Homo sapiens: one gene and its partners. The protein of the gene in region 1 interacts with the protein of each later gene in a pairwise test. Each region holds a gene or a part of one and is shown on either strand. Other genes may lie near its edges. The genes, in order: DNAJB6, GINS3, DXO and BCAT1.

Region 1 (7,854 bases):
GGGAAACCGAGGCTTGTTGATGTGGGTAAAGTCAGTGCGTCATCAGCCCTAAAGTTTTATTGGGCATCAGGGGATGTGGGCACCACAGGGAACCATGCCTCGCACCCCTGTGGCCACTCAGCCTCCAGTCTGGCCCCAGTCAGCACTGGGTCCTCTTCCCTCTGCCCTGCAGCCTCTGTGCTTGCTGGCCCATGAAGCTTCTCGGTCCACTTTTGGCCTTGAACATTTCAGCTGCCCTCAACCCCCGGGGCTCCCTGCAAGCCATTACCCCAAATCCATCCACATTCTCCACGCTCCTCCTTTCTTTCTTTTATTTTTTGAGACGGAGTTTCACTCCTGTTGCCCAGGCTGGAGTGCAATGGCACGATATCATCTCACCGTGACCTCCACCTCCTAGGTTCAAGTGATCCTCCTGCCTCGGCCTCCCGAGTAGCTGGGATTACAGGTATGCGCCACCACGCCCGGCTACTTTTTGTATTTTTAGTAGAGACCAGGTTTCACCATGTTGACCAGGCTGGTCTTGAACTCCTGACCTCAGGGGATCTGCCCACCTCGGCCTCCCAAAGTGCTGGGATTATAGGCGTGAGCCACCGCACTCGGTCTCCAAAGACTTTTCACTCCTACTTAAATCTTTTCTGGGATAAATCCTTGTCATTGAAAGACCTCGTTGTTTCAAAAGAGTTAATTAAATATTACCATTTAATCTCCAAGGTGTTTATACCTGTCCTCCCTAACTGCTATGTGAAGTCCATCAGGATGGGGACCTTGTTTTGTACTGGTTGCTTTTCTTCATGATAAAATTTATTGTATTGACATGCTTCTTAAAAATTATGTATGTATTTGTTTAGAGACAGAGTCTTGCTCTGGCACCCAGGCTGCAGTGCCATGACATGATCACTGTTCACTGCAGCCTCGACCTCCTAGTCTCAAGTGCTCAAGTGGTCCTCTTACTCAGCCTCTTGAGTAGCTGGGACTATAGGTGTGTGCCACCATGCCCAGAAAATTTTCTTTTTTCTTTTTTTTTCCTGAGACAGAGTCTTGCTTTGTCACCCAGGCTAGAGTGCAGAAGCACGATCTCTGCTCACTGCAACCTCTGCCTCCCGGGTTCAAGCAATTCTCCTGCCTCAGCCTCCTGTGTAGCTGGGAATATAGGCATGTGCCACGACACCGGGCTAATTTTTTGTACTTTTAGTAGACATGGGGTTTCGCCATGTTGGCCAGGCTGGTCTCGAACTCCTGACCTTGTAATCTGCCCACCTCAGCCTCCCAAAGAGCTGGGATTATAGGCGTGAGCCACTGTGCCTGGTCATAATTTTCTATGTATTTATTTTTGAGACAGGGTCTGTGTTGCCTAGACTGGAGTACAGTGGTGCTCTACTGAAGCCTGGACCTCCCTGGGCTGAGGTGATTCTCCCACCTCAGCCGCCTGAGTGGTTGGGACTATAGGTGTGTGCCACCGCACTTGGCTAATTTTGCTATATTTTGTACAGATGGGGTTTCACCAAGTTGCCCAGGCTGCTGTCGAACTCTTGAGCTCAAGCAATCTTCTCGCCTCGGCCTCCCAAAGTGCCAGAAAAAAATAATTTATTTTTGGTAGAAATGGGGTCTTGCGGTGTTACCTAGGCTGGTCTGGAATTCCTAGGTTCAAGCAATCCTCCTGCCTCAGCTTCCCAAAGTGCTGGGATTACAGGTGTGCACCACTGTGACCAGCCTGATACGCGTTTTAATGTGTGTGTGTGTGTGTATATATATATACACACACACACATACACACACATATATTTTCTTTTTCGAAGGGGGAAAAGCTATTTGTGGCTAGCCTACCACTTACAATGTAAAATTCATGTCTGTGCTGCTTACATTTCAAGATGAGCTCACAATCACTGTAGGGACGTATTGACATGTAAAATGTCCCATGATAGTACTGTCTGTCCACACTGAGATGGAACTAAACCTCCATCAATCTGCAAGCAGATAGGTTACATGTGACAGTGCCAAGCTGTGCACATATCTGAAATTCCAGTCTTTGCTGAGATTATTTTAGGTTTTATTATGAGATGCCCATACTAACACAAACTATTATTTCTTCCTTTTGAACAGTCATTTATATAACCAGTAAAAAAAGAGAATAGAGGCTGGGCTTGGTGGCTCATGCCTGTAATCCCAGCACTTTGGGAGGCTGAGGTGGGTGGATCACCTAAGGTCAGGAGTTTGAGACCAGCCTGGCCAACATTGTGAAACCGCATCTCAACTAAAAATACAAAAAATTAGGCATGCATGGTTGCTCATGCCTGTAATTCCAGCTACTCAGGAAGCTGAGACAAGAGAATCACTTAAACCTGGGAGGTGGAGGTTGCAGTGACCCTAGATTGTGCCACTGCACTCCAGCCTGGAGGACAGACAGAGAGACTCAGTCTCAAATAAGAATAGAGAATCCAGTCAGATTTTCCTTTGCTAACTGATCATTTGCTAGAAATGACATGCAGTAATACAATTAAAGTTTAAGAAACACAAAAAATGAGCCCAGCACAGCGGCTCATGCTGGTAATCCCAGCACTTTGGGAGGCTGAGGCAGGAGGACTGCTTGAGCCCAGGAGGTTAAGGCTGCAGTGAGCCATGATTGAACCACTGCACTCCAGCCTGGGTGACAGAGCAAGACCCTGTCTCAAAAAAAAAAAAAAAAAAAAAAAAAAAAGGGCAGTATTTCATTTTGAAGTATAACAATTACAGCCATTAACCAAGTGTTCCAGTTGTCTAAAATGAGGCAGGTGTAGACGGAAAATTTTCCCTGTACTCTCTGAAGGTTTCACAACTGAGTCTCTGAACTAAGCTGACAATAGACAGATTCGTAAGAGAAAAAGTATACAAATCTATAACATGTACTAGGGCATCCCAGAATCCAGTGAGATCTGGAAGCTTATACAGCCCCTTCATAGAAGAGAGGGGAGGCAGATGCAGGCAGCTCAGGGGAGAGAAAATGATTTTTTGCCTTCAGAATAGGTGGTGGCCTGTGGCAAAATCTGTCTGGGTGTGCAGCTGACGTCCCTTGAAGCTCTTCTCCCGTGATCCTGGCTCATTCTTCCCTGGATGAGACTTCCAGGGAGGGGGTCAAGACAATTGAGTCCCTTTGGGATGATCTGTCTTTATGTAAATAATGGGGGATTCACAGAATGCCCCTCCCTGCATTGGCAGGTCCCCATGTGCCCTCAGTTTGAGGGCATACTAATGTGGTAATCAGTGAACTAGTTAGTAATCAGTATCCTAATATGGCATAATTCAGGGTGGCATTTCTCCAACTCTTTCATTACTAACGAGCTATTTTAAACCAAAAGTGATTCAAGTGTTAAAGTGCCTTTTACTTGAATATCTCCCAGGCTTAAACGATCACGAATTCATAAGCGTTGTTAGTTCAGAAGGTGGCTGAGCAGGCCCCCGGAATTCAGTGTCAGCATGCCACAGGATCTGAAGTTCAGGAAAGGTGTAACAAAAAGGGATTTTTCTTTTTTCTTGAGACAGAGTTTCGCTCTTGTTGCCCAGGCTGGAGTGCAATGGTGTGATCTCCGCTCACTGCAACCTCCTCCTCCTGGGTTCAAGCGATTATTCTGCCTCAGCCTCTGCAGTAGATGGGATTACAGGCATGCACCACCACACCTGGCTAATTTTTTTTGCATTTTTAGTAGAGACGGGGTTTCTCCATGTGTCAGGCTGGTCTCGAACTCCCAACCTCAGGTGATCCGCCCGCCTTGGCCTCCCAAAGTGTTGGGATTACAGGCGTGAGCCACCGCACCCAGTTGAGATTTTTATTTCTTAAAGGAAAGGATAAGGTGGGCCAGGACTAAGACAACACAGTAGCAAACATCTGGCTGAATGCTGGAGAGGAAGACAGTGGGAGATCCAGGCCAGGCTCCATGGACGAACTGCTTGTTGGCTCCTTAGGCTTTGGGTCTGCGGGACCCTTTCGCTACTGGGAATGGGAGCCTGTCTGACTGCACTGGGTCTGAGACTCCCTGCTCCTGCTGGTCACCATCTACACGCATGTGGTGTTGGTCTCCAGGGTTAGAACCAGAACCCCTGAGGACGCGGGAAAGGCTAGGAAGCCTGGGGATGACCTAAAGTCCAGCTATCAAAATGCGCCGCGTTTTCAGAAAAACTACTGCCACGATTTAACCTAAAAAGCTTCATCTGTATTTTCTGCCACAGTTTGCTTCCGTTTCCTTCAGTCACTATTCCCTGGCGAAGTCTCCACGCGCTCCCGTTCGCCGGGGAACTTAGGGTATCCGGGCTTCCCTAAATTGACAAGCGGGGGCCGGCGCCTTCGCCCGCCTTCGCTGGCCGCCGCTTGGTTTGTTCTTCTTCTCCTTCGGGGACTTCTCCGCCCGCGCCCGCGCCCGCGCCCCAGCTTTCGTCCCGCTGTGCGGAGATGCCACCCAGCTCCACCGCAGGACCGCGGAGCGAGAGGCGGCAGACGCGCTCCGGGGGCCGCCGGTCAAGAGGAAGATGAAGGGCGCGACGACTTCGCGGTTTCCAGAATGGGCTCCTTCTGGCCCAACAATAAGTGCCATTTGGAATCTTCTCGGCCTTCTCTGTGCCTTCCGCGCGTCTGGGCTCCCCGGTACCGTAGACCCGGCCCCGAGCTCCGCCCCCTCGCCCTGGGCTTCCCCGCCCCCTCGCCCCCAGTCTCCTGGGCTCTTCGGGGCGGCGGAAGAGCCGAGAACCTTCGCGAAGGTGGGGCGGGCGCCCCCGAGGTTGGGCCCGCGGTATGGGCAGTGGAAACTGCGCATGCGCGGCGTCAGGGTCGGGCGGAAGTTGACGCCGCCGTGCCGCCGCCGCGTGACGCATTTCCTGTTTGTTGTTGGAGAAAGGAGAGAAAGGAAAGCGCGAGGAGCCGCCGCCACCACCAGCGCAGCAGTCCTGGAGCTGTGAGGAGATTCGGGCCGTCACCCTGCCTCCCCTGCGTCCCGCCACCGGCCGCTTCTGTCCTCGGTGAGGGTCTGTTCCGAGGGTCGGGGGAGGTCGCCTAGGGCCCCGCGCGCGCCCGGCAGACGGCGGACCTCACCCGGCGCCTGGCAACAGCGCGGGGGGTGACCGGGGTCGCCGGCCGGGGAAAGGACTGGACGGGGCGGGGGCCGTGGCCGGGGTTGCGGGGCGAAGGGTGGGCGGGGTCCTCTGGGTCAGGTCTGGGGCCGGGGCCGGGGCTGGGGTCTGGGGCCGCCCGGCCGCGTCCTCCCCGCCCGGCGTCCTTGCCGGAACGCGGCCCAGCCTCCGCGGCGGCGGTTGGGGGTGGGGCCCGGCCTGGGAGCGGCCGGCTGGGGCTCGGCTGGGGCTCGGCGGGGCCGGCAGCGTGGGAGGCGTGGAGCGCCTTCTTTTTCTAAGGCTCCCGCACTCGCGTCTGAAACCAGAAACGGGAGTGGCTTGCGGAGCAGGAATGCCGCAGCCGTGCCGCCAAGTTCGGAGGGAGAAGAAGCAGGTGGGGGACCGCAAAGCCCTGTTTCTAGAACTCCGGACGGATTGTTCAGAAGTTTGTGGAAGAGCAGGCTGCCTTTCTCACTCAGAATGTTTGTCTGCTTTGCTTTGCGTTAAAGAATCTGCACCGTAGTTGATGCAACTGAAGTTTATATAAGAAGTTTACATTAACTCTTACCTAAGGAAGGTCAGTGACACACGCAGTGTAAACTGCAAATCATATATTGGCTCGAGAAAGGTTTTGGCACTAGCGAATTTTTTAAAGGATGGGTTTGCTAGTCAGACGTAAACTTCTGTGCTAACTTCTCACGTAAACGGGGCAGGAAACAGCGCAAGTAGAACGATCGTGCCACCACCGAAGGGGTGCCGCCTGCGAGCTCGGAGGCTTCAGCCTGTTTGGGAAGAGTAGGCTGAGCGGCGCTCTTTGTAGTTTTCAACGTTTTTATTGAGTTGCGAATTTTAGTAAGGATTTGTCGCTACAATTTAAGCCAAATTATTGATTTAGTAGAAAAGTTAGAGTGAAGACCGAAGAAAGGAAACAGACGTTAACCATTAAAGCTTGATTGCTGCTGCTTCGTGTTTAACCGCACTTTTCCAAATAGTGTTGCGTATCAGAACGATTCATGATTTCTGAAAGGAATTATATGCAGCCGCCTTACTCCTCCGCCAGTCCACCCGTCCCGCGTTCTCTCTGGGTTTACTCCAGACTTCCTTTTTTTTTTTTTCCTGAGACGGAGTCTGTTCTGTTGCCCAGGCCAGAGTGCAGTGGCGCGATCTCCACTCACTGCAACTTCCAGCTCCCAGGTTCAAGCGAGTCTCCTGCCTCAGCCTCCTGAGTAGCTGGGGTTACGGGTGCTCGCCACCATGTCCGACTAATTTTTGTATTTTTAGTAGAGACGGGGGTTTCACCGTGTTGGTCAGGCTGGTCTCGAACTTATGACCTAAAGTGATCGCCTGCCTCGGCCTCCCAAAGTGTTGGGATTAGAGGCGCGAGCCACCGCGCCTCGCCGACTCCAGACTTGTTTCCACTCCTGAGGGCCTTAAGCTCCCTTGGAGTTTGTGCTTTCACATTTCTTTCTGCCTTCCGTGATAAAGGGATGAATAGTTTTTATGCACGCTTCAGCGAGCTGCGGGTTTTTGTGGATTACGCAGGCTGTGAAATTTGGGAAGTAAGTTGCCTTAAGTTGGTAGATGTGGAGATTTGACAGGAAGTGGGAGAACAAAGGGGTTGGGAAGCTTTTGGAAAGTGTCCAGGCTTCATCTGTGCTGTGGAAGGTGAGAAAGTTGGGAATTCCAGAGGGCAGAGCTCTTAAAGAATTTGAGATGAGTTCAGCACTCTCTTCAAAACAGTGTTTTAAAATTTATTTTCTTCTGGATATGAAAGTGTTAGGTTTGGGAAGTAATTCTGGCTGTAGGACAGTTTTTCCGGAACACTAGGTGGGGAGTGTTGAATGTTGTGAAGACTAAAATATGCATATGGTATTACAGTGTGATACCTGTTACTGAGTGGCGTACATTAGCTTTCATTTTTAAGCAAGCCCGTAATTCCCTTCTATTAACTCTGTTTTGGACAGTGGTACCCGTCACCCTCATCAGTCTTCAACCTAGATAACCTAAATCCAGGTCTGAGGTGGGGGTGGAATGGTCTGTTTGCACCTTTTTTTTTTTTTTTTTTTTTTTTTTTTTTGAGACGGAGTCTTGCTCTGTCGCCCAGGCCGTAATTAATGCGGTGGCGCGATCTCGGCTCACTGCAAGCTCCACCTCCCGGGGTCACACCATTCTCCTGCCTCAGCCTCCCGAGTAGCTGGGACTTCAAGCTTCCGCCACCACAGCCGGCTAATTTTTTTGTATTTTTTTAGTAGAGACGGGGTTTCACCGTGTTAGCCAGGATGGTCTTGATCTCCTGACCTCGTGATCCGCCTCCTCGGCCTCCCAAAGTGCTGGGATTACAGGCATGAGCCACCGCGCCCGGCCTTTTGTGTGTGTGTGTGTGTGTGTGTGTGTGTGTGTGTGTGTGTGTGTGAGATGGAGTTTAGCTCTTGCCCCTGCTGGAGTATAATGGCACCATCTTGGCTCACTGCAACTTCGCCTCCCAGGTTCAAGCGATTCTCCTGCCTCAGCCTCCCGAGTAGCTGGGATTACAGGCATGCGCCACCACGCCCAGCTAATTTTTTCTATTTTTATTAGAGACGAGGTTTCACTATGTTGTTCAGGCTGGTCTCGAACTCCTGACCTCAGGTGATCCACCCGCCTCGGCTTCGCAAAGTGCTGGATTACAGGTGTGAGCCCGCGCGTCCGGCTGTCACTTTAAAGAGTATTATAAGAGGGCACTTCATAACTTGGGCAGGTATTTTTAGTCATCCTGAACGTGTCGCTGTGGACTGGGTGTCA
Region 2 (7,020 bases), on another chromosome or scaffold:
TCCTAGGCAGAGGACCCTGCGGCCTTCCGCAGTGTTTGTGTCCCTGGGTACTTGAGATTAGGGAGTGGTGATGACTCTTAACGAGCATGCTGCCTTCAAGCATCTGTTTAACAAAGCACATCTTGCACCACCCTTAATCCATTCAACCCCTGAGTGGACACAGCATATGTTTCAGAGAGCACAGGGTTGGGGGTAAGGTCACAGATCAACAGGATCCCAAGGCAGAAGAATTTTTCTTAGTACAGAACAAAATGAAAAGTCTCCCACGTCTACTTGTTTCTACACAGACACAGCAACCATCCGATTTCTCAATCTTTTCCCCACCTTTCCCCCCTTTCTATTCCACAAAGCCGCCATTGTCATCCTGGCCCGTTCTCAATGAGCTGTTGAGTACACCTCCCAGACGGGGTGGTGGCCGGGCAGAGGGGCTCCTCACTTCCCAGTAGGGGCGGCCGGGCAGAGGTGCCCCTCACCTCCCGGACGGGGCGGCTGGCTGGGCGGGGGGCTGGCCCCCCCACCTCCCTCCCGGACAGGGCGGCTGGCTGGGCAGAGGGGCTCCTCACTTTCCAGTAGGGGCGGCCGGGCAGAGGCGCCCCTCACCTCCCGGACGGGGCGGCTGGCCGGGCGGGGGGCTGACTCCCCCACCTCCCTCCCGGACGGGGCGGCTGGCTGGGTGGGGGGCTGACCCCCCCACCTCCCTCTTGGACGGGGCGGCTGGCCGGGCAGAGGGGCTCCTCACTTACCAGTAGGGGCGGCCGGGCAGAGGCGCCCCTCACCTCCCAGACGGGGCGGCTGGCCGGGTGGGGGGCTGACTCCCCCACCTCCCTCCCGGACGGGGCGGCTGGCCGGGCAGAGGGGCTCCTCACTTACCAGTAGGGGCGGCCGGGCAGAGGCGCCCCTCACCTCCCGGATGGGGCGGCTGGCCGGGCAGGGGGCTGACCCCCCCACCTCCCTCCCGGACGGGGCGGCTGGCTGGGCAGAGGGGCTCCTCACTTCCCAGTAGGGGCGGCCGGGCAGAGGCGCCCCTCACCTCCCGGACGGGGAGGCTGGCCGGGCGGGGGCTGACCCCCCCACCTCCCTCCCGGACGGGGCGGCTGGTCGGGCGGGGGCTGATCCCCCCCACCTCCCTCCCGGACGGGGCGGCTGGCCGGGCGGGGGGCTGATCCCCCCACCTCCCTTCCCGGACGGGGCGGCTGGCCGGGCGGTGGGCTGACCCCCCGACCTCCCTCCCGGACGGGGCGGCTGGCCGGGCGGGGGGCTGACCTCCCCACCTCCCTCCCGGACGGGGCGGCTGGCCGGGCGGGGGGCTGACCCCCCCACCTCCTTCCCGGACAGGGCGGCTGGCCGGGCAGAGGGGCTCCTCACTTCCCAGTAGGGGCGGCCGGGCAGAGGCGCCCCTCACCTCCCGGACGGGGCGGCTGGCCGGGCGGGGGGCTGACCCCCCCACCTCCTTCCCGGACGGGGCGGCTGGCCGGGCAGAGGTGCTCCTCACATCCCAGTAGGGGTGGCCGGGCAGAGGCGCCCCTCACCTCCAGGAGAGGGCGGCTGGCTGGGCGGGGGGCTGACCCCCCCACCTCCCTTCCGGACAGGGCGGCTGGCCGGGCGGGGGGCTGACCCCCACCTCCCTCCTGGATGGGGTGGCTGCCGGGCGGAGACGCTCCTCACTTCCCAGACGGTGTAGCTGCCGGGCGGAGGGGCTCCTCACTTCTCAGACGGGGTGGTTGCCAGGCAGAGGGTCTCCTCACTTCTCAGACGGGGCGGCCGGGCAGAGATGCTCCTCACATCCCAGACGGGGCAGCAGGGCAGAGGCACTCCCCACATCTCAGACGATGGGCGGCCGGGCAGAGACGCTCCTCACTTCCTAGATGGGATGGCGGCCGGGCAGAGACGCTCCTCACTTTCCAGACTGGGCAGCCAGGCAGAGAGGCTCCTCACTTCCCAGACGGGGTGGCAGCCGGGCAGAGGCTGCAATCTCGGCACTTTGGGGGGCCAAGGCAGGCAGCTGGGAGGTGGAGGTTGTATCGAGCCGAGATCACGCCACTGCACTCCAGCCTGGGCACCATTGAGCACTGAGTGAACGTGACTCCGTCTGCCATCCCGGCACCTCGGGAGGCTGAGGCTGGCGGATCACTCGCGGTTAGGAGCTGGAGACCAGCCCGGCCAACACAGCGAAACCCCGTCTCCACCAAAAAAATACGAAAACCAGTCAGGCGTGGCGGCGCGCGCCTGCAATCACAGGCACTCGGCAGGCTGAGGCAGGAGAATCAGGCAGGGAGGTTGCAGTGAGCCGAGATGGCAGCAGTACAGTCCAGCTTCGGCTCGGCATCAGAGGGAGACCGTGGAAAGAGAGGGAGAGGGAGACCGTGGGGAGAGGGAGAGGGAAAGGGAGAGGGAGAGCTTGTCTAAATTTTCAATGGTATCAGTACAATGTTCAGAATTTCCTTTACTATCTTTTTAATGTCAGTAGGATTACAGTGGTGTCCTTATTTTTATTTTTAATATCAATAAATTGTGTTCTCCCTTTCTTGATTACCCTTGCCAGGAGTCTATCAATTTTTTTATTCTTTTAAAAGAACTAACTTAGGACTCTGTTGGTTTTCTCTTTTGTACCTTTGTTTTTTAGGTCATTAATTTTTTAATTAGTTCTTTCCTTCTACTTTATTTGGGCTTAATTCTCCCACCACACACACACACACAGATACACATTTTGAGATGGAAACCTAGGTCATTAATTTTTCAATCTTCTTTTATACATTCATAGCTATTCATTTCTTTTAAGTGAAATTATTCTATTCAATTCACAACTTTAATTGCGTTTCATAAGTTTTGATGTGTTATATTTTCATTATCAATGAACTAAAAATACTTTTTAGGCCAGGCATGGTGGCTCACACCTATAGACCCAACACTGGGAGGTGGAGGCAGGAGGATCACTTGAGCCCAGGAGTTCGAGACCAGCCTAGGCAACATAGTGAGTCCCCATCTCTACAAAAAATTTTTTAAAAAAGCCGAGCATGGTAGCACACACCTGTGGTCACAGCTACTCAGGAGGCTGAGGCAAGAGGATCACTTAAGCCTTGGAGGGTCAGTACTGCAGTGAGCCGTGATCACACCACTGCACTCCAGCCTAGATGACACAGCAAGATACTGTCTCAAAAGAAAATAAATAAAAATTTTAAAATACTGTTTAATTTTGCGTTTTAAAATACTGTTTAAAATACTGTTTAATTGTGATTTCTTTTTTGACCTGTAGGTATTTAGAAGACTAGTGCTTAATTTCAAACATTTTGAGATTTGGTCATTTACCATTTTTTATTTCTAGCTTAATTCCACCGTGGCCAGAAAACATAGTCTACATGATTTCAGTCTTGAAAGTTGCTGAGACTTGCTCTATGGCAAAGCATAAGACCAATTTAACCATTCTGTGTGGACTTGAAAAGATGTCTATGGGAAGTCATAGTGTGCAATAAATAATCCGTATGTGTAAATTAGCTCATTTGTTAATTGTTTTGTTGAGATATTCTCTATCCTTGCAATTTTTTTTTCTACTTTTTTTTTTATCCTGTAAAACATGTGGACCAGGCATGGTGGCTCCTGCCTGTAACCCTAGCACTTTGGGAGGTGGAGGTGAGAGGATCACTTGAGGCCAGGAGTTTGAGATCAGCCTAAGCAACATAGCAAGACCCTGTCTCTAGGAAAAATTGAAAAATTAGCTGAGTGTGGTGGCACATGCCTATAGTCCCACCTACTCAGGAGACTGAGGCAAGAGGATTACTTGAGCCTAGAAGACCACTGCACTCCAGCCTGGGTGACAGAACAGGACCCCCTCTCTGAAAAAAAAAAAAAAATTGAAAAAATGTTAAAGTCTCTCATTATGATTATGGATTAGCCTGTTTATCCTTTTACTTCTGTTAATTTAGACATATATTAATAATTTTCTGGTAGATATAATGACCCTTTTATTATTGTCACGTCTCCCTTTATCTCTAATGCTCCTGTCTTTTGATTCATGTTTACATGACTTTTTTTAATCCTATTTTTAATTTTTCTGTGTCTTCATATTTAAGGTATGTCTCTTTTATGCAGCATATAGTTGGGTTTTGTTTTGTGTGCAGTGTGCTGATTTTTAATTGTTATATTTAATCCATTTACATTTAATTATTGACATATTTGTATTCATTTTTACCTTCTTACTATTTTCTTATGTCCCATCTGTTTTAGCTTTCTTTTTCTATCCTTTCTTGACTTCCTTTTGCATTAATCAAATTTATTTTATTATTCATTTACCTTTTTATTAGTTTATTTAGTTATATATTCTTCTGTTATTTTAGTGGCTACCTTAAATATATTACACAATCATTTCTGACCAAAAAGAATGTTATATAAGTTACTACTTTCACCACTTCACAGAAATGACTAGAATCTTAGAACACTTAAACCCATTTTTTCTCTTGTGTTATTGTGATGTATTCTAGTTTGACTCATTGAAAACCCCTGTAAAACATTATTATTATATACCCACTTATATATTCTTTTCATGACTTGTTTTTCCTTTCTGCATTTCTGTAGTTCTTTCTGGAATCATTTGCATTCTCTCTTCAGAATTCCCTTATTCTGGATCTTCTGGTGATAAGTCTCAGTTTCTGTCTGTGTCACAGATGCCCAAGACCAACCCAGATTTGATGATTCACTAAGAGGACTCAAAGGACTCAGCATATAGTCACACTCATGGTTAAGATTGATTACATCAAAAGGATATAAAGCAAAATTAGCAGAGGGAAAGGTTGCATGGAGTAAAGTCTGGAGGAGACCAGGCACAAGCTTCCAAGAGTCCTCTCCTAGTGGAGTCACACAGGATGCACTTAAATTCTCCAGTAATTTGAATTCTGATAAAATGTTTGAAATACTGTCTCCTAGGGAAGCTTGTTAAAGACTCAGTCCCCAGGGTTTTATTGGAGGCTGTTCATGTGGCACTTTCTGTCTAGCACAGACCAAAATTCAGACTTCCAGAGGGAAAGCAGGTGTTCAACATGAATCACATTGTTTGCACAGACAGTTCAGGCACACTCTCATCAGTTCTAGGACGGGTGAGAATCCTCCTGAAATCCAAGTTCCCAAATGCCAACCAAGGGCCAACCTTGCAGCAGGCCTTGCTAAGATAGCAGCCTCAGGCCTACTGTGTATCTTTCCTGCATACTTTCTCTATGGAAATGCCTTTATTTCACTTTTACTTTTAAAGGATATTTTCACTGGGTATAAGATTTTACACTCACAGTTATGTTCTTTTAGCACATAAAAAAAAAATTCCATTTCCATTGTTTTGTGGCTTCCACAGTTTCTGTTAAGAAGTTGGCTTTTTTTTTTTTTTTTCTTTTTTGAGACAGAGTCTTGCTCTGTCGCCCAGGCTGGAGTACAATGGTGTGATCTCGGCTCACTGTAACCTCTGCCTCCTGTGTTCAAGCGAGTCTTCTGCCTCAGCCTCCTGAGTAGCTAGGATTACAGGCGCCCACCACTATGCCTGGCTAATTTTTGTATTTTTAGTAGAAACGGGGTTTCACCATGTTGGTCAGGCCCGTCTCGAACCCCTGAGCCCATGTGATTTGCCCGCCTTGGCCTCCCAAATTATTGGTGTGTCTGGAATTGGTTCCTTCAGGTGGGTTCTTGGTCTCGCTGGTCTCGCTGACTTCAAGAATGAAGCCGAAGACCCTTGTGGTGAGTGTTACAGTTCCTAAAGGTGGTGTGTCCGGAGTTTGTTCCTTTAGATGTTCAGATGTGTCCGGAGTTTCTTTCTTCTGGTGGGTTTGTGGTCTCGCTGGCTTCAGGAGTGAAGCTGCAGACCTTTGCAGTGAGTGTTACAGCTCATGAAGGTAGTGGGGATCCAAAGAGTGAGCAGCCATCAAGACTTACTGTGAAGAGCTAAAGAACAAAGCTTCCACAGCGTGGAAGGGGACCCAAGCAGGTTGCTGCTGGTGGCTTGGTGGCCTGCTTTTATTCCCTTATTTGGCCCCACCCACATCTTGCTGATTGGTCCATTTTACAGAGAGCTGATGGTTCATTTTACAGAGTGCTGATTGGTCCGTTTTACAGAGTGCTGATTGGTCTGTTTTTACAGAGTGCTGATTGGTGTGTTTACAAACCTTTAGCTAGATACAGAGCACTGATTGGTGCATTTACAATCCTTTAGCTAGACAGAAAAGTTCTCCAAGTCCCCACCCAACCCAGAAGCCCAGCCGGCTTCACCTTTTATTGGGATTACAGGCGTGAGCCACCGGCCCCTGCCAAAAAGTTGGGTTTAACTCTTAATGTTCATTCTTTAAAGGCAGTGTGTTCGTCACTCCCATCTACAGCTGTTTTTAGGATTTTCTCTGTCTTTGGTCTCGTAATTCAGGTAATATATGCCTAGTTGTGATTTTATTAGTATTTATTCTATTAATACTTGTTATTCATAATGTTCCTTGAATCTGTGGTTTGATACCTTTTTTAATTTTGGATAATATATAGCTATTATCTCTTCAGACATTTATTTTGCCTCAATCTATCGCTCCTGCCCATCAAATTACATGCATGTTGAACTTTGTCTTTCTTTTACACCTTATTTCATACATCTCTTAGGCTCTTCTCTGTTTTTTCTCTAGATACTTTAGTCTGGTTATTTTCTATTGACCTTTTCTCATTCACAGTCCTGTCTTCATCCAAATCCAATCCAGTAAACATGTTAAATTTGATTTAATCTATTGACTTCTTAGGTTCAATTATTGTATTTTTCAGTTCTGGAATTTCCATTTGATTTCTAAGTTTATCTTAAAGTTGGCGCCTAATTTCTCTGCTATTCGGTGTCAAATAGGGGGCTTACTTCCCTCCCTTCTTTCTCAGATCTTAGGCCCTCATGTCCTGGTGGTGTTGGCAGCCTTGAACTCAATATTGGTCTGTCTAGTCCTGTGCAGTTTGCCAAAAGCTCTGCTTCCACACCCACAAAGCTGCTCCCATCTTTTTGCAACAGTTCTCCCTTGTGAGAGTTTT
Region 3 (6,947 bases), on another chromosome or scaffold:
CCCCCTGCCCGGCCAGCCACCCCGTCCGGGAGGTGAGGGGCGCCCCTGCCCAGCCACCCCTACTGGGAAGTGAGGAGCCCCTCTGCCCGGCCAGCCGCCCTGTCCGGGAGGGAGGTGGGGGGGTCAGCCCCCCACGCAGCCAGCCGCCCCGTCCGGGAGGGAGGTGGGGGGTCAGCCCCCCACCCGGCCAGCCGCCCCGTCTGGGAGGGAGGTGGTGGGGTCAGCCCCCCCCGCCCGGCCAGCCGCCTCGTCCGGGAGGTGAGGGGCGCCTCTGCCCGGCCGCCCCTACTGGGAAGTGAGGAGCCCCTCTGCCCGGCCAGCCGCCCCGTCCGGGAGGGAGGTGGGGGGGTCAGCCCCCCGCCCGGCCAGCCGCCCTGTCCGGGAGGTGAGGGGCGCCTCTGCCCGGCCGCCCCTGCTGGGAAGTGAGGAGCCCCTCTGCCCGGCCACCACCCCATCTGGGAGGTGTGCCCAACAGCTCATTGAGAACGGGCCACGATGACAATGGTGGTTTTGTGGACTAGAAAGCGGGAAAAGGTGGGGAAAAGATTGAGAAATCGGATGGTTGCCGTGTCTGTGTGGAAAGAGGTAGACATGGGAGACTTTTCAAAAAAAAAAAAAAATAGTGGAATTATCAAAAAGACAATTAAAAAAAAAAAAAACAGCACTTTGGGAGGCCGAGGCAGGCAGATCATCTGAGTCAGGAGTTTGAGACCAGCCTGGCCAACAGGGTGAAACCCCATCCCTATAAAAATACAAAATTAGGCCGGGTGCGGTGGATCATGCCTGTAATCCCAGCACTTTGGGAGGCCGAGGAGGGCAGATCACGAGGTCAGGAGATCAAGACCATTATGGCCAACATGATGAAACCCCCATCTCTACTAAAAATACCAAAATTAGCTGGGCATGGTGGCGCGTGCCTGTAGTCTCAGCTAATCAGGACAGTGAGGCAGGAGAATTGCTTGAACCCAGGAGGCAGAGGTTGCAGTGAGTTGAGATCACACCACTGCACTCCAGCCTGGGCAACAGAGCGACACTCCACCTCAAAAAAAAAAAAAAAAAAGGGAAAACTAAGGCAACAATGACCACAGCAGTCACCTCCCAGGGACATTCTGATCAGAGACATTTTGATCAGAGAGGGATATATGTGGGATACTGGTCATATTCTATAGTTTGACCTAGGGAGTGGCTAGATAGGTATCTGCTTTATAAACATCATTTAAATTATATATGTTTATATTTTCATTCTGCAACTTTTAAAGGTTTTTAAAAACAAAAGCTAACACCAATACATTAAAATCAACAAATACTCCTTAAGGAGTGGTTCCATCTGGCATGCTTCCTCACGGGAGACCTAGTCAGGGAGACTAGCTCACCTCAAGTGAGTGCTAGACTGCCTTCCTTTTCTTTCCTCTTTTCTTGAAAGATCACTATTAACCTTCTACCTGCTAAATCCAATGGACAGATTTCAGTTCTGGGTTTTTTTGTTGTTGTTTTCATTTTTTTAGAGACAGGGTCTCCCTCTGTTACCCAGCCTGGAGTGCAGTCGTGCAATCATAGCTCACTGCAGCCTCAAATTCCTGGGCTCAAGCACTCCTTCTGCCTCAACTTCCCAAACAGCTAGAACAATAGGTGCACACCACCATGCCCAGCTAAGAATTTTTGTGTTTTAATTTATTTATTTAGTAGAGATGGGATCTCAGTTATTTAGTAAAGATGGGGTCTCACTTTGTTGCCCAGGCTGGTCTCAAACTTTTGGTTTCAAGCTATACTCCTGCCTCAGTCTCCCAAAGTGGTGGGAGTACAGGCATGAGCCACCACACTCAGCCTAGATTTCAGTTTATATTTTACTTTACCTCTTCCCTCTTCTTAGACCACTGTCTTGAATCACAGGTTCTAATACTGCCAACTACTTCACTTTCTCAAAAATCTCTTTACTTTCACAGTAGGCCTCTTCCTGGGTTACTTTTTTTTTTTTTTTTTTTGAGACAAAGTCTAGCTCTATCACCCAGGGTGGGGTGCAGCGGTGCTATCTCAGCTCACTGCAACCTCCGCCTCCCCAGCTCAAGCAATCCTCCCACCTCAGCCTCCCCAGTAGCTCTATAGGCGCGTACCACCACGCCTGGCTAATTTTTGTATTTTTTGTAGAGATGGGGTTATGTCATGTTGCCCATGCTGGTATCAAACTCATGAGCTCAAGAGATCCACCCACCTCGGCCTCCCAAAGTGCTGGGATTACAGGTGTGAGCCACCGCGCCGGCCTCTGGGTTCCTCTTAACTCAGGCAAGTCCCTCTCTGCCTCTGTCACAGATTCCTCTTCTTCTGCTTTCCCTTTATGTCAGTGGATCTCAAATTTTAAGGCACACTTAAAAAGCACTTGAGGCAGTTCAAAAATGTAGAGTCCCAAATCCCGCCCCAAGAGAGCGTAATTCATTAACCTTGGATGAGTCCCAGGAACCTGTATTTTTTTTAACAAGCAGCCCACGTAATTTTGACACAGGCATAATAACTCAGCTCATATATTCAGTAACACTGCCTTAAATGATGGTGTTTCCCAGCATTGTGGATTTGACCCTATTAACTTCCACTCTAAACCTGGAGTCCTTAACCACGGACCTCGCAGGATTAGTAAAATATTTCCCCCCTAACTATACATACACCCTATGTATATGTGGCAAACGTGCATTTTTCTGGAGAGAGATAGCCATAGCTTTTATCACCTTCTAAAGATTACAAAAAGGTTAGAAATCACTCCTCTACCCACTCTTCCTACTGGATCTCACCACATCACAGAATTAACCACTTGCTATTCACACCTCCATGACTTGTAATTCTATTATCACTGGCCCAGAATTCTCTCCAACTCTCATATCCAACTGTCTAATACCTTTGTCTTTGGATGCTCCACATGCACCATCAACTCAACTTGTATAAAATTAAACACATTATCTGTAGTCCAACAACTAAATGTGCTCCTAATACCACCAGCCACGCAGTCATCTGGAAAGTCTGAGTTGTCCTGGACTCCTCCCTCTTCCTCACTCTCCTCTCCCTCCCTACTGCACTGACCTAATTTAGGCCTTCACCACTTCTCAGATGCAGTATCTTCTTAGCTGACCTCCCTGCCTCATCCACTATCTCCAATACACCATTCCCTCTCTCTATGATATTCTCTACCAGCCCATCGCCTCAGTGTAAGATGGAAACAACACTGATGTACAAGGCCTGTCATGATCTGACGTCTGACTGCACTCCCAGCGCTGTATGTTCGAACCATGCCCCATGACTCGGTTTCCCCAAAAGCCTCGTTCTTCTACCTCCATGATTTGAAATGCCCTGTACTACCTGCGGGACTTTTAACAGGGTCTCTGTGGCACCCCAGTGCCTGGCACAGTGCCCTCGCCTGAAAGGCCTAATGCTTGCTGAACGGCTGGCGGAGTGACTGAGTGACAGGGAATTCCAGGAGTTAGGAAAGGGGCTTCCGGCGGTCGCACCGACGCCCCTCACCAGCTGCCGGTCGGCCACGGTCCTGTCAGGCACAAGGCTGTACACCTGGCTCCTCAGCACGATGGGCGGCAGCGCGTCCTCAAACAGGCCTCGCGGGAACAGCTGCATGAGTTCTGAGACAGCCGCGCGCGCCGACCCTGGGCAGATAAATCGGCTCACGGACAGGGAACTGGGGCGGGGACGCGGTTCTAACAAAACTCTCGGCTACCGGAAGCGAGGCCCCACCCCCGGGGTTGCCATGGTTACCTGGCTCACCCCGAAGAGGATCCGACTCCACAGGCCCTCGCTTCCGCCGCCTCTTAACTCCAAAGGTCTCCGGGATCAGGTGATGCCTCTTCCAGCTCATATCCCGGGATTTTATGGTACCGGGGAAGGGGTAGGAATGGAGGGAAGAGAACCTGAAAATAGGGTCTTCCGGCGCAGAGCAGTGACGTACGGTCTCCCCGGGCGTCCCTCCTAGACCAGGTGATGACGAAAGGAGCGTCAACTTGTCGTCCCTCAGGCCCGTCAGTGCTGGGAGGGGCGGTGGCGACGCACATACCAGCATCACCTCCGCCAGGCCGGGCCCCACGCCGGCCGCGGATTGGCTCCCTCCAAGGGCACGCACGCCCGGGGACTCGTTGGCGGCGTGGAGGGGCGCCGGTGGCCACGTTGGTGTCAACCTCCTTCGTGAAGCTCACACCTCCCCCGCCCCGGGAGGGGTTTGCCCGCCACTGTCGCTGAATGATTGCATCATCGAAAGCAGAAAACCACTTTTGCATCCTTCGGCCTCTGGCGTGCCTGCCATGACGTCATAGCTCTGCGGAGGTGGAAGTTGGGGAGCTTTGAGGTAACTGGATTCTTGATCTGAGCGCAGACGTCCTTCCTAACCTCACTGCATTTGGAGGACCTGGAGGGAGGGTGGGTGAAGGGCAAGGAAAGAGGCAGGATGAGAGCTTGGCCGCGGTGGCGTCTGAGGGGCCTGAATGTTTCAAGGCCAGAGCCTGGCGATCAGGTGGCTCGCTTAGTCCTAAACCAGTCATCCTTCTCCAGGCCTCCTCTGTAGAATGGAAACTCTGTACCCCTGCTTGTCTTAGGACCTCATGGATCCCAGGGGGACCAAGAGAGGAGCTGAGAAGACAGAGGTAGCTGAGCCTCGGAACAAACTACCTCGTCCAGCACCTTCTCTGCCCACAGACCCTGCCCTCTACTCTGGGCCCTTTCCTTTCTACCGGCGCCCTTCGGAACTGGGCTGCTTCTCCCTGGATGCTCAACGCCAGTACCATGGAGATGCCCGAGCCCTGCGCTACTATAGCCCACCCCCCACTAACGGTCCAGGCCCCAACTTTGACCTCAGAGACGGATACCCGGATCGATACCAGCCCCGGGACGAGGAGGTCCAGGAAAGGCTGGACCACCTGCTGTGCTGGCTCCTGGAACACCGAGGCCGGTTGGAGGGGTGAGCAAAGCGTGGTAGGCAGTATATCTGGAGACCCGTACCTACCCTCTAAAATTAGGAGAGCCAAAGCCGGGGTGAGAATCAGTCCTTAGAAGAAACAAGACTATTCTTCGAGGGGAGCATCTCACTAATGCTTGTGTCAGACCTTCAGCCTGTAACTCCTGCCTCTCAGGGGTCCAGGCTGGCTGGCAGAGGCCATAGTGACGTGGCGGGGGCACCTGACAAAACTGCTGACGACACCGTATGAGCGGCAGGAGGGCTGGCAGCTGGCAGCCTCCCGGTTCCAGGGAACACTATACCTGAGTGAAGTGGAGACACCGAACGCTCGGGCCCAGAGGCTTGCTCGGCCACCGCTCCTCCGGGAGCTTATGTACATGGGATACAAATTTGAGCAGTACATGTGTGCAGGTGAGTTGCCCCTGCTTCATAGCCCCCTTCCCCTTCCCAGAGGTTGAGAGCCCCCCACGCCTGCTGCTGCTTCTCTCCTTGTGCAGACAAACCTGGAAGCTCCCCAGACCCCTCTGGGGAGGTTAACACCAACGTGGCCTTCTGCTCTGTGCTACGCAGCCGCCTGGGAAGCCACCCTCTGCTCTTCTCAGGGGAGGTAGACTGCACAGACCCCCAAGCCCCATCCACACAGCCCCCAACCTGCTATGTGGAGCTCAAGACCTCCAAGGAGATGCACAGCCCTGGCCAATGGAGGAGTTTCTACAGGTTCAGGATCGGGGTGGGCAGGGCGAGAGCTTAGGCTTGAAGGCTGGGAAAGGGACTTGGGGAGGAGGGTGAAGGCAGAATGGAGGGTGCACGAGGGGTCCCACTGATCCCTTGCTTTTCCTGTCAGACACAAGCTCCTGAAATGGTGGGCTCAGTCATTCCTCCCAGGGGTCCCGAATGTTGTTGCTGGCTTCCGTAACCCAGACGGTTTTGTCTCTTCCCTCAAGACCTTTCCTACCATGAAGATGTTTGAATATGTCAGGGTAAGGGAACGATGTTGCAGCTCCCACCCGTATCCCCAAACACCAAGACCACAGGTCTAGCATCCAGGGCAACAGCCTGCCTTCTCTCCTCCCACCACCCCCACTGCCCATCTTCTGCCTCCTCCTCTGCCTGCTCCAGAATGACCGTGACGGCTGGAATCCCTCTGTGTGCATGAACTTCTGTGCCGCCTTCCTTAGCTTTGCCCAGAGCACGGTTGTCCAGGATGACCCCAGGTGAGGCATTCAGCTCTGTCCCTCCCCTCTGGATCCCAGGATCCAGCCTCTGGCCCTCAACTGATGCCTCCATCTGCCCCCCAGGCTCGTTCATCTCTTCTCTTGGGAGCCTGGCGGCCCAGTCACCGTGTCTGTACACCAAGATGCACCTTACGCCTTCCTGCCCATATGGTATGTGGAAGCTATGACTCAGGACCTCCCATCACCCCCCAAGACTCCCTCTCCCAAATAGTAATGCTTTAGAGGGAGGCAGTCATATCTCTGTGTGCAGATAATAAAAGCATATTTCTAAGAGGTTCTCTCGCTGTCTTCTTAGCTGAGTCATCCCTGTCCAGCAACTCAAGCACACAACAGTGCTTTGCTGTTTTATCATCATGTTTTTACATGGGGCATTCACTGGGTGTAGAGGCTGGCCGCAAATACGATGTCCCGCCGTAGCAAGGTAGCCGCTGTCTCCATCTTGGCACCCAGCACAGGCTCTCCTACCAGGCGGGCTGCCCCCCGCAGTGAGCGACACATCTCAGCCAGGCGCTGAATGCAGCGGACCACCAGGCCCTCAGGGGTCCCTGAGAGCCCTGCCAACTCGGAGAAGGGCTGTGGGGAAAGTAGGGTGAGGACTGGATGCACTCAGCCTGGGCAGGTTCTCCCCAGCCAGCCGTCTGCAAAATCCCAAACCTCAGGTACTCACCATGCCCCGGGCCCACTCATATACAACCTCAACCAGCCCAAAATTCAGCTCCCCCACAAATTCCTCCACCGTCTGGTTCAGGCCACAAGCCACCTGGACCTCACCA
Region 4 (7,842 bases), on another chromosome or scaffold:
GGAAAGTACCCTGAGAGGTTCTAGAGAACTAGCAGAAAGAAGACTTTACAATATCCTTTCAAAATAGATAGGAATTAATTTATTTTTATTTTTATTTTTTTGAGATGGAGTCTTGCTCTGTCGCCCAGGCTGGAGTGCAGTGGTGCGATCTCGGCTCACTGCAAGCTCCACCTCCCGGGTTCAAGCCATTCTCCTGCCTCAGCCTCCCGGTAGCTGGGACTACAGGTGCCTGCCACCAAGCCTGGCTAATTTTTTGTATTTTTAGTACAGACTGGGTTTCACCGTGTTAGCCAGGATGGTCTCGATCTCCTGACCTCGTGATCCGCCCACCTCGGCCTCCCAAAGTGCTGGGATTACAGGCATAAGCCACCGCGCCCAACCCAGTAAATCTAATTTTACATGGGGATTAGGTACTAGAGTGTGTACAACAAGGATAAAAATAAATCCAGTGAGTCAAAATTGTCATGGGAAATTTCCCAAAAAGTACAGTATAAATGATTTTCGAGTATTGAACTTGGTGTGTGTCTGTGTGTGTATGCATGTGTGTGTGCACATGTATGTAATGGGCAATGAATGCAAGTATTATAGGAAATATAAAAACAGTACAATTTTGAAGTATTTTTTACTATGAGAAATAGAGAAAGAGAATGACATTGTTTTCTGAGTGTGTAGAGTAGAATTTTAGAGTAGATTTTCCTCTTTTAAGACAGAGTATCATTGCCTTATGTAAACTCTCCTATTCAAATTCCAGGAACTGTTAATAACTCAAGGCAGAGAATATTTGTGAGTTTCTGCTTTCCTAGAGAAAATTTAGTAAGATACAGGGAAGACATTCTGCAGGTAGTTGGCACATATTTTTCATAATGATGGCAATAAAAGCCTTTGTTAATAACAGTGAGGACAAAATGAAGCTGGACTGTCTGGCGCTCTGGAGTCAACCTCAAAATTAGTGTCTATTAGAAATCTTAGAAATGCTGTCTCTTCTTCAGTAAAAGACACTGCCCATAGATGGGTATATGGTATATATCCAGTTTGGATCCAGTTTTCCTTAAATATCTTTTACTGTGACTTGTTTGAAGTACAGTGCCACTGTCAGAGTAACAACCTTCGTTGATCATGAGCCTCATCATTTGGGAAAAGCATGTGTGTTGTCTGGGAGAGAAGCTTTGGGAGTTTACAGTTGACAATGAGGGAGAACTGTGGGGCCCTTCTATCAACACTAAAGGGAAATGGGAGGAGAGACATAGCTAGATTGTTCTTATATTCTTTTTTTTTCTTTTTTTTTTTTTTTTTTTGGAGATGATGTCTCACTCTGTCACCCAGGCTGGAGTGCAGTGAAGTATGAAGTGATCACAGCTCACTGCAGCCTGGATCTCCTGGGCTCCAGTGATCCTTCCACCTCAGCCTTGGGAGTAGCTTAGACTGCAGGCACATACCACCACAAACAGCTAATTTTTGCATTTTTTGTAAAGACTGGCTTTTGCTATGTTGCCCAGGCTGGTCTTGAACTCCTGCTTTGACGTCCCAAAGTGCTGGGATTATAGGCGTGAACGCCCGGCCCTCATATTCTTCTGTGGATGTTAATTCCCTAACTTTCTCACTTCCCTTCAAGCTCTTTTTTTTTTTTTTTTTTTAAATATATACTACCTTCTCTCTTCCTTTGTTGCTAACATCAAAAGAATCCTTAAGTAGGGGTAACAGCAACAGGGTTGGAGGTGAAACTGTACCTTCAAGCCAAAAACAGCCTGAAGGCTGAAAGACCAGACTGCTGGTCCTGGATGAAATCCATGACGCAGAGTGAGAATTTCTGTTCCTGTTTGCCTGCCCCTCCCCTATTCTGAGCCGATAAAAAGCCCCAGGACTCAGCCTCATGGAGGAGACTTTCCTGCCTTCGGGTAGGGGGACCACCCCCGCTTCCCTCTCTGCTGAAAGCTGTTTCATCCCTCAGTAAAACTCCCCGCCTTGCTCACTCTTCAATTGTCAGCACATCTTCATTTTTCTTGGGCATGGGGCAAGAACTCAGGAACCAATGTGCAAGGCAAACTTGTCTCAGGCGGGCAAATTGCGTGGGGTGCCTCCTGCAGCAGGTAGTATGCCCCGAGCTAGGCCTCCGGCATTGCCGGCTAGAGGTCCTTGACTGGCAAAGGGACTGAGAAAAATCCTGCATTGAGGGAGAGGGGGGCGAGGGGCGGTCGTTGGATCTAGGAGTAATTGCCAGGCTTGCTCTAGAACTTATTAATGCATTTATATCTATGACCCCATCACTCTCTATCCCCTTATTACTCTTTCTCATAAAATTTACCACATGGTACCTGTTTTTTTTTTTTTTTTTTTTTTTTTGAGACTGAGTCTTGCTCTATTGCCCAGGCTGGAATGCAGTGGCATGATCTTGGCTCACAGCAACCTCTCTGCCTCCCAGGTTCAAGCGATTCTTGTGACTCAGCCTTGTGAGTAGCTGGGATTACAGGCACCCCGCAACCACGCCCGGCTAATTTTTAGTAGAGACGGGGTTTCACCATGTTGGCCAGGCTGGTCTCGAACTCCCGACCTCAAGTGATCTGTCTGCCTCAGCCTCCCAAAGTGCTGAGATTACAGGTGTGAGCCACCATGCCGGGCCATAGAGTAACATCTTTATTGAGATATAATTCACATAACATACAATTCACCTATTTAAAGGGTATAATTCAGTGGTTTTTAGTGTGTTCACAGGGTTGTGTAACCATTACCACAATCTAATTTGAGAACATTTTAATCAATTCAAAAAGAAATCCAACGCCCATGAACATTCACTCTGCATTCCACCCTGTCCCCAGATTGAAAACAACTATGTGTTTTCTGTCTCTATGGATTTTCCTGTTCTGCACATTTCAGATAAGTGGAATCATATAATATGTAGTCATTTGTGAGACGCTTCTTTCACTTTGCATAGTTTTCAAGGTTCATCCATGTGACTGCATGTAATCAGTACTTCATTTCTTTTTATTGCAGAATATAATAATATTCCATTGTATGGATGATACCATGTTTTATTTAGCCATTCCTCAGTTGATAAACATTTTGCTACCTGATTTAAAGCTTACTTTCTGTTTCTCACACTAGTATATGAGCTTAATGAGGGTAAGAACATTTTTGTTGTTTCCCACTCAGTCCCTAGCATTTTGCACATTGCCTGTCTCATGTCAGTGTCAGGTTCAAATCTATCTAGCTGTGCTTTCACTGACGGGGGCCAGGAGGTTTCACAAGGACTCAATGGCTGATTAAATGCTTACAGATACAGATTTCTCAGGGCAGAACTTCTGCAAGCATTTTGGCTGTGGTCAGTTACTTTCAGGTTTTCATTACTTTTTGGTTTTCACAGCATCCGCAAGTGCCCATAGCCATTATCTCAGCTGCCTCTCTCTTTACTCTCTTGCCAATGGTGCCAGGCCACAGCAGGTGTTATCTTATCACCTCAGTCCACCATACATATGCTTATCAATTTGAGGGGTCAGCAATTTCACTGGAGGCTGAAACCCTTGTCATAAATGGCTCCATTTTGAGACATTTCAGATTACAAACCACTGTTATATACCAGCCTAGCATGTAGAAATCACTCAGTACATTTATTGAACACATAATTTAACCATTCATTCACCTGACCAACAGTCATTAAGCACTGACACATTTGTTTTCAACACTCCCTCTCTTCCACGGCAGGCCACTTGGTATGGGAGATAAATATGACAAAGGATCTGCCCTTACGAATCTCATAATCCACTGAAGTGACAACTGTGCAAACAAATAATTAAAGTAAAATTAAGAAGCTGGGCACAGTCTCACATCTGTAATCCCAGCAATTTGGGAGGCGGAGGCGAGGGGATTGCTGAGGCCAGGAGTTCAAGACCAGCTTGGCCAATTTAGTGAGACCCCATCTCCATTAAAAAATGATAAAATAAAATAATTGATTTTGAGAAAGGATGTGGACAAAGTGCAGCACATAGACCAAGGGCCCAGTTCTGTTTGAGGGCATTGGAAGCAACTTCCACAGCAAAGACTTGGGTTGAAATTTACAAAAATAGGAGTTTGCCAGCTTGACAGAGAGGCAGCGGAGGTCAACCAGCAGCACACTTAAGCAGTCATGGAGGCTGACCTAGGCGCTGGACATGGAAAAGTAGCAATCCTGGAGCTTTGTATAGATGTGGGGAGGGAACTTACAGGGGACCAACTAGGCTACTGGGCAATTTCACATTATAAAGAATTTTATATGCTCAAATTAAAGGATTAAAAATTTTCCCCCATGTACATAATAAATTGGCAAAAATGGTTATATTTGAGGGTGACTAAGGAACTCTGGGAAAGAGATCGGCAAACCAGGCACATGTTCTTGACTACTGCAAAAGTACATTTAAAGTAGCCGCGGGGGATACATGTATACTTTTGGGCAGGATTGTGCCGTGGTCCTCTCAGCATGCAGCAAAGTTACTTTGGGGACAGTAGGGAGGTGGGCAGGAGCCAGTGATGACGGAATGGCAATCACATTTGACCTCTGATCTGTTTATTTCCTCCTCCTTGACGTCTCCATATAAATGTTACACGGGCATCCCCACACTCGGATACGCACCCACAGTGGCTGATTCGGGGGTAACCGTGTCATTTGCTTGCAACACTGGCACCTCTGCCCTGCACCCCGGGAGTGAGCAGTGAGTGAGGCTCGGGTCTGGGCGCTGGCTCCGAATCTTCGGGCTGGGAGAGACTCCACCATCTGGGGGCGGCCTGGGGGAGCAGCCTTAGTGTCTTCCTGCTGATGCAATCCGCTAGGTCGCGAGTCTCCGCCGCGAGAGGGCCGGTCTGCAATCCAGCCCGCCACGTGTACTCGCCGCCGCCTCGGGCACTGCCCCAGGTCTTGCTGCAGCCGGGACCGCGCTCTGCAGCCGCAGACCCGGTCCACACGGCCAGGGGCTACGACCCTTGGGATCTGCCCTCCGCTCAGCTCGAGCTTCCCTCGTGGCCGACGGAACAATGAAGGTAACTACTTATGGTTTTGTCCGTGTTTTACAAAAATGTGTGCGTGAATCGAACCGGCGATTTCTCCAAGAAACATAGTTGGCAGGGAGGGGAGGAAGGCGAGACAACCATGGCTTATATCCCCCGCAAACGTCTCAGTATCTTCTTTATCAATCGTAGTTTGCGGGGACCGTGCATTCTGTTCAGATTTCGGTTTAACCTCCACTCGCAGGACGTGCCTTCTCGGACTTTTTCACATTCGCTTTTGGGAACGGAGGTGAAAGTCTGCTACAGCTCCCTCCCCTGCTTGTGAAGTTTGGAAAGGAAGTGAGGGCTTCTCTCAGTTTCTCCTATGCACAGGAGGTGGGGAATTTTGGAGAGGAGGTCTGGGGATGTCCCGGGCTGTAAATGCGCTTTCCTGCAGCGTGTGTTCGTGATGCAGGAGGGAGCGGCTGGAAGAGTTGACCCGGGTGGAGAGGGGAGGGAGAACGATCTTTTCACTGTTAAAAGCAGAAGGCCCCTCTTATTTTGTTTCTTGTGGAAATTAAAGCTTCTAGGAGTTACAAATGATAGACGCCTAAGGGCATTCATTTGTTAAACCAGTGAGCACCCTAATGGCTCTGATCTTGCTAATCAAGGATAATTAGCCTAGCTGCCTATTATTTCTGACTATTTAGGTGTAGGGATGTACACCGTTGAGTGTTTTGTTTTCCTAGTTTCACACACTGGAAAACTGCAATCGCATATAAAACCCGAAGAGCAACTTTTTCCAAGGAAAGTGAAGGATGGGCAGATATTCTTGCCATCTAACATTTTGGAATTGAGATGACCATAATGCAATCTGAACTTCTGGTAGGAATAAAGCCTCGTTTCAGAGTTTCTAAGGAGGGAGATGAAGCGTGGTTCTCAACTGCTCTTATCTACAACCCATCCCAGACCATAGTTTCACTTAGAAGAAATAATATGTAAATAGCGCCTTTGTTGCCAAACAAAAACTTTCACTACAATTAAACAGTAACCGAGTGGAAACTATGCGTTTTTGTATTCAACAGAGATCACACAACTTTTCTTCTATAGTTAGAGGTTCTATTTCTGGCTTCCTCATGCTTGTTTCATTTCAGATGAAAAACACACTTTAGTTGATTATAGCTTTAGTAAGTAAAAGGAGAAAACTAAGAATGAACAGTCTTGCTTTTCCAGCTTTTTCCTGTCCATGTGCAGTTGTGGTTAATTACGCGTTTTTGTAGGTCCAAAAACCCCTGTCCCTTCCACAAGATACTTTTATAACATGGGGAACTAGGTAAGATATCTACAAGTAGTCTCTTTTCTGTTTCCTGATATTTCCTAAGATTAAGAAAGAAATGATTGTATTCTAGGTATGATCGAAGAAGTATGGAAGGTTCCATTAAGTTAGTTTTATCACAATATTTCAAACATCTTTCCACTTATCTCTTAAATATGTATTGCTATCACAAGCTTGATTTTTTAAAAAAATGTTATTTGCACATGGCATCTTGATTGCCTTTGTCCTCAGCAAATTCTCCGGGCTTAAGTCATGCATGAGCTTGTATTTTAAGACAGACACATGCAGAATGGGCAACTTGGATAAGAAACATAGGATATACACTGAGTAGCATGTGTACAAAAATGGTAAGTGAGTATTATGACTTAATAAATTTAGATGGGGATTTAAAAATGATACACATGTAAATGGGATTGGAGGCAAGGGAAGTCCGTGTGTGTGTGTGTGTGTGTGTGTGTGTGTGTGTGTGTGTGTGTGGAGGGAAGACGGGAGGCCTAGTGGGGAGAGAGGTTTTACATTCCAGACACAGGATGTGGCCCCTCAGGCTAGGCTCAGAGATGTAAAGCTAGTTAAGCTGGCCTAACAAAAGGGTGGTGGTTAGAAAAAGGAAAAAAAGAGGTGGGGGTTGGGGAGGAAAAGAATTTAATGCTGGCCAATATTTTCATCTGATAAGTTTCAGTAATGAGTAATTTCACTGGATTTCAGAACTACAGAGAGAAAAGGGGAAAAATATTTTTCCTTTTTTACGCAAGAATTTCTCTTGCTTTTCAGCTCATTAGAACCAGATCTAATTATTTGAAATGAGTTTAAAACCTTATTATGAAAGGAAGTTGAAAACATTCGATCACAATTGAGTTTTGTACTATGGACTAAAACCAAGATGTGCTTTCTGTCAGTAGCTGTGCAACTCCCTGAAAAAAGAAAAATAGCGCAGAGCGATCTGAGCTTTGTGAAGGCTACACAATTTATCAGGCCCAGAGAGATAGGAGTGTGAGACTTCAGTCACGTCCCCCCGTACGCATGCGCAGGAGTAATTATTTAAAGACATTTTGTTCCTGACTAACTGCCTCACTCATTATGTTCCTGGAATTTGTGATACAAAAAAACAATGTTTAGCCTATCAATAGTTTATATAGTTTATGTTATTTTAATATAAATTCTTCTCAACTTAGAAACTGCCTCTTTTTTCTTTTAAAAACCCACTTGTAACTGCTGTATATATTCAGGGCAACTTGATTTGGTGTTTCGTTGGTTGCAGTCCTCAAATTTGACCTCAATATACTCTCTACTTATATAAATTTTGTCTCAGTTTTGTCCGTAGGCTGACATTCCAATTGTTTTCCTAATTATATATTTTGTTCCTTATTTCTCATGTCTAGAAATAAAGCTAGGGAAGTAAACAGCTGGAAAACTGATAGTGGTGTTATTAACCTAACTGAGAGGGCTGGGCTTATGAGTAAATTATTCCTGTGCATAAATGAAAGATTGTTTCTAAATGGCAGCTATGTTGAGCCTTTGTATTAGTTACATCTTTTGGGGTTTCAGGTTGCCAGCTT

The links.
Region 2: the proteins of DNAJB6 (region 1) and GINS3 interact in binary tests that used the Homo sapiens proteins (3 or more experiments, as listed by UniProt).
Region 3: the proteins of DNAJB6 (region 1) and DXO interact in binary tests that used the Homo sapiens proteins (3 or more experiments, as listed by UniProt).
Region 4: the proteins of DNAJB6 (region 1) and BCAT1 interact in binary tests that used the Homo sapiens proteins (3 or more experiments, as listed by UniProt).

Annotation. Positions count from the first base shown.
Region 1 is NC_000007.14:157,332,162-157,340,015, forward strand, and holds the start of DNAJB6 (dnaJ homolog subfamily B member 6), read left to right. Parts: upstream 1-4,842; 5' UTR 4,843-4,983; intron 4,984-5,392; exon of another isoform or gene 5,393-5,650; intron 5,651-7,854. UniProt on the Homo sapiens protein: Has a stimulatory effect on the ATPase activity of HSP70 in a dose-dependent and time-dependent manner and hence acts as a co-chaperone of HSP70. Plays an indispensable role in the organization of KRT8/KRT18 filaments.
Region 2 is NC_000016.10:58,395,456-58,402,475, forward strand, and holds part of GINS3 (DNA replication complex GINS protein PSF3), read left to right. Parts: intron 1-7,020. UniProt on the Homo sapiens protein: Required for correct functioning of the GINS complex, a complex that plays an essential role in the initiation of DNA replication, and progression of DNA replication forks.
Region 3 is NC_000006.12:31,969,315-31,976,261, reverse strand, and holds DXO (decapping and exoribonuclease protein), read left to right. Parts: upstream 1-4,265; 5' UTR 4,266-4,333; exon of another isoform or gene 4,334-4,580; 5' UTR 4,581-4,586; coding exon 4,587-4,942; exon of another isoform or gene 4,943-4,956; intron 4,957-4,987; exon of another isoform or gene 4,988-5,087; intron 5,088-5,114; coding exon 5,115-5,350; intron 5,351-5,436; coding exon 5,437-5,656; intron 5,657-5,783; coding exon 5,784-5,919; intron 5,920-5,994; exon of another isoform or gene 5,995-6,058; coding exon 6,059-6,153; intron 6,154-6,237; coding exon 6,238-6,385; 3' UTR 6,386-6,447; downstream 6,448-6,947. Other genes in the region: WHR1 (winged helix repair factor 1), read right to left, coding at 3,505-3,641, 3,751-3,960, 4,046-4,265; SKIC2 (superkiller complex protein 2), read right to left, coding at 6,547-6,747, 6,842-6,947. UniProt on the Homo sapiens protein: Decapping enzyme for NAD-capped RNAs: specifically hydrolyzes the nicotinamide adenine dinucleotide (NAD) cap from a subset of RNAs by removing the entire NAD moiety from the 5'-end of an NAD-capped RNA.
Region 4 is NC_000012.12:24,946,089-24,953,930, reverse strand, and holds the start of BCAT1 (branched-chain-amino-acid aminotransferase, cytosolic), read left to right. Parts: upstream 1-4,829; 5' UTR 4,830-4,998; coding exon 4,999-5,004; intron 5,005-7,842.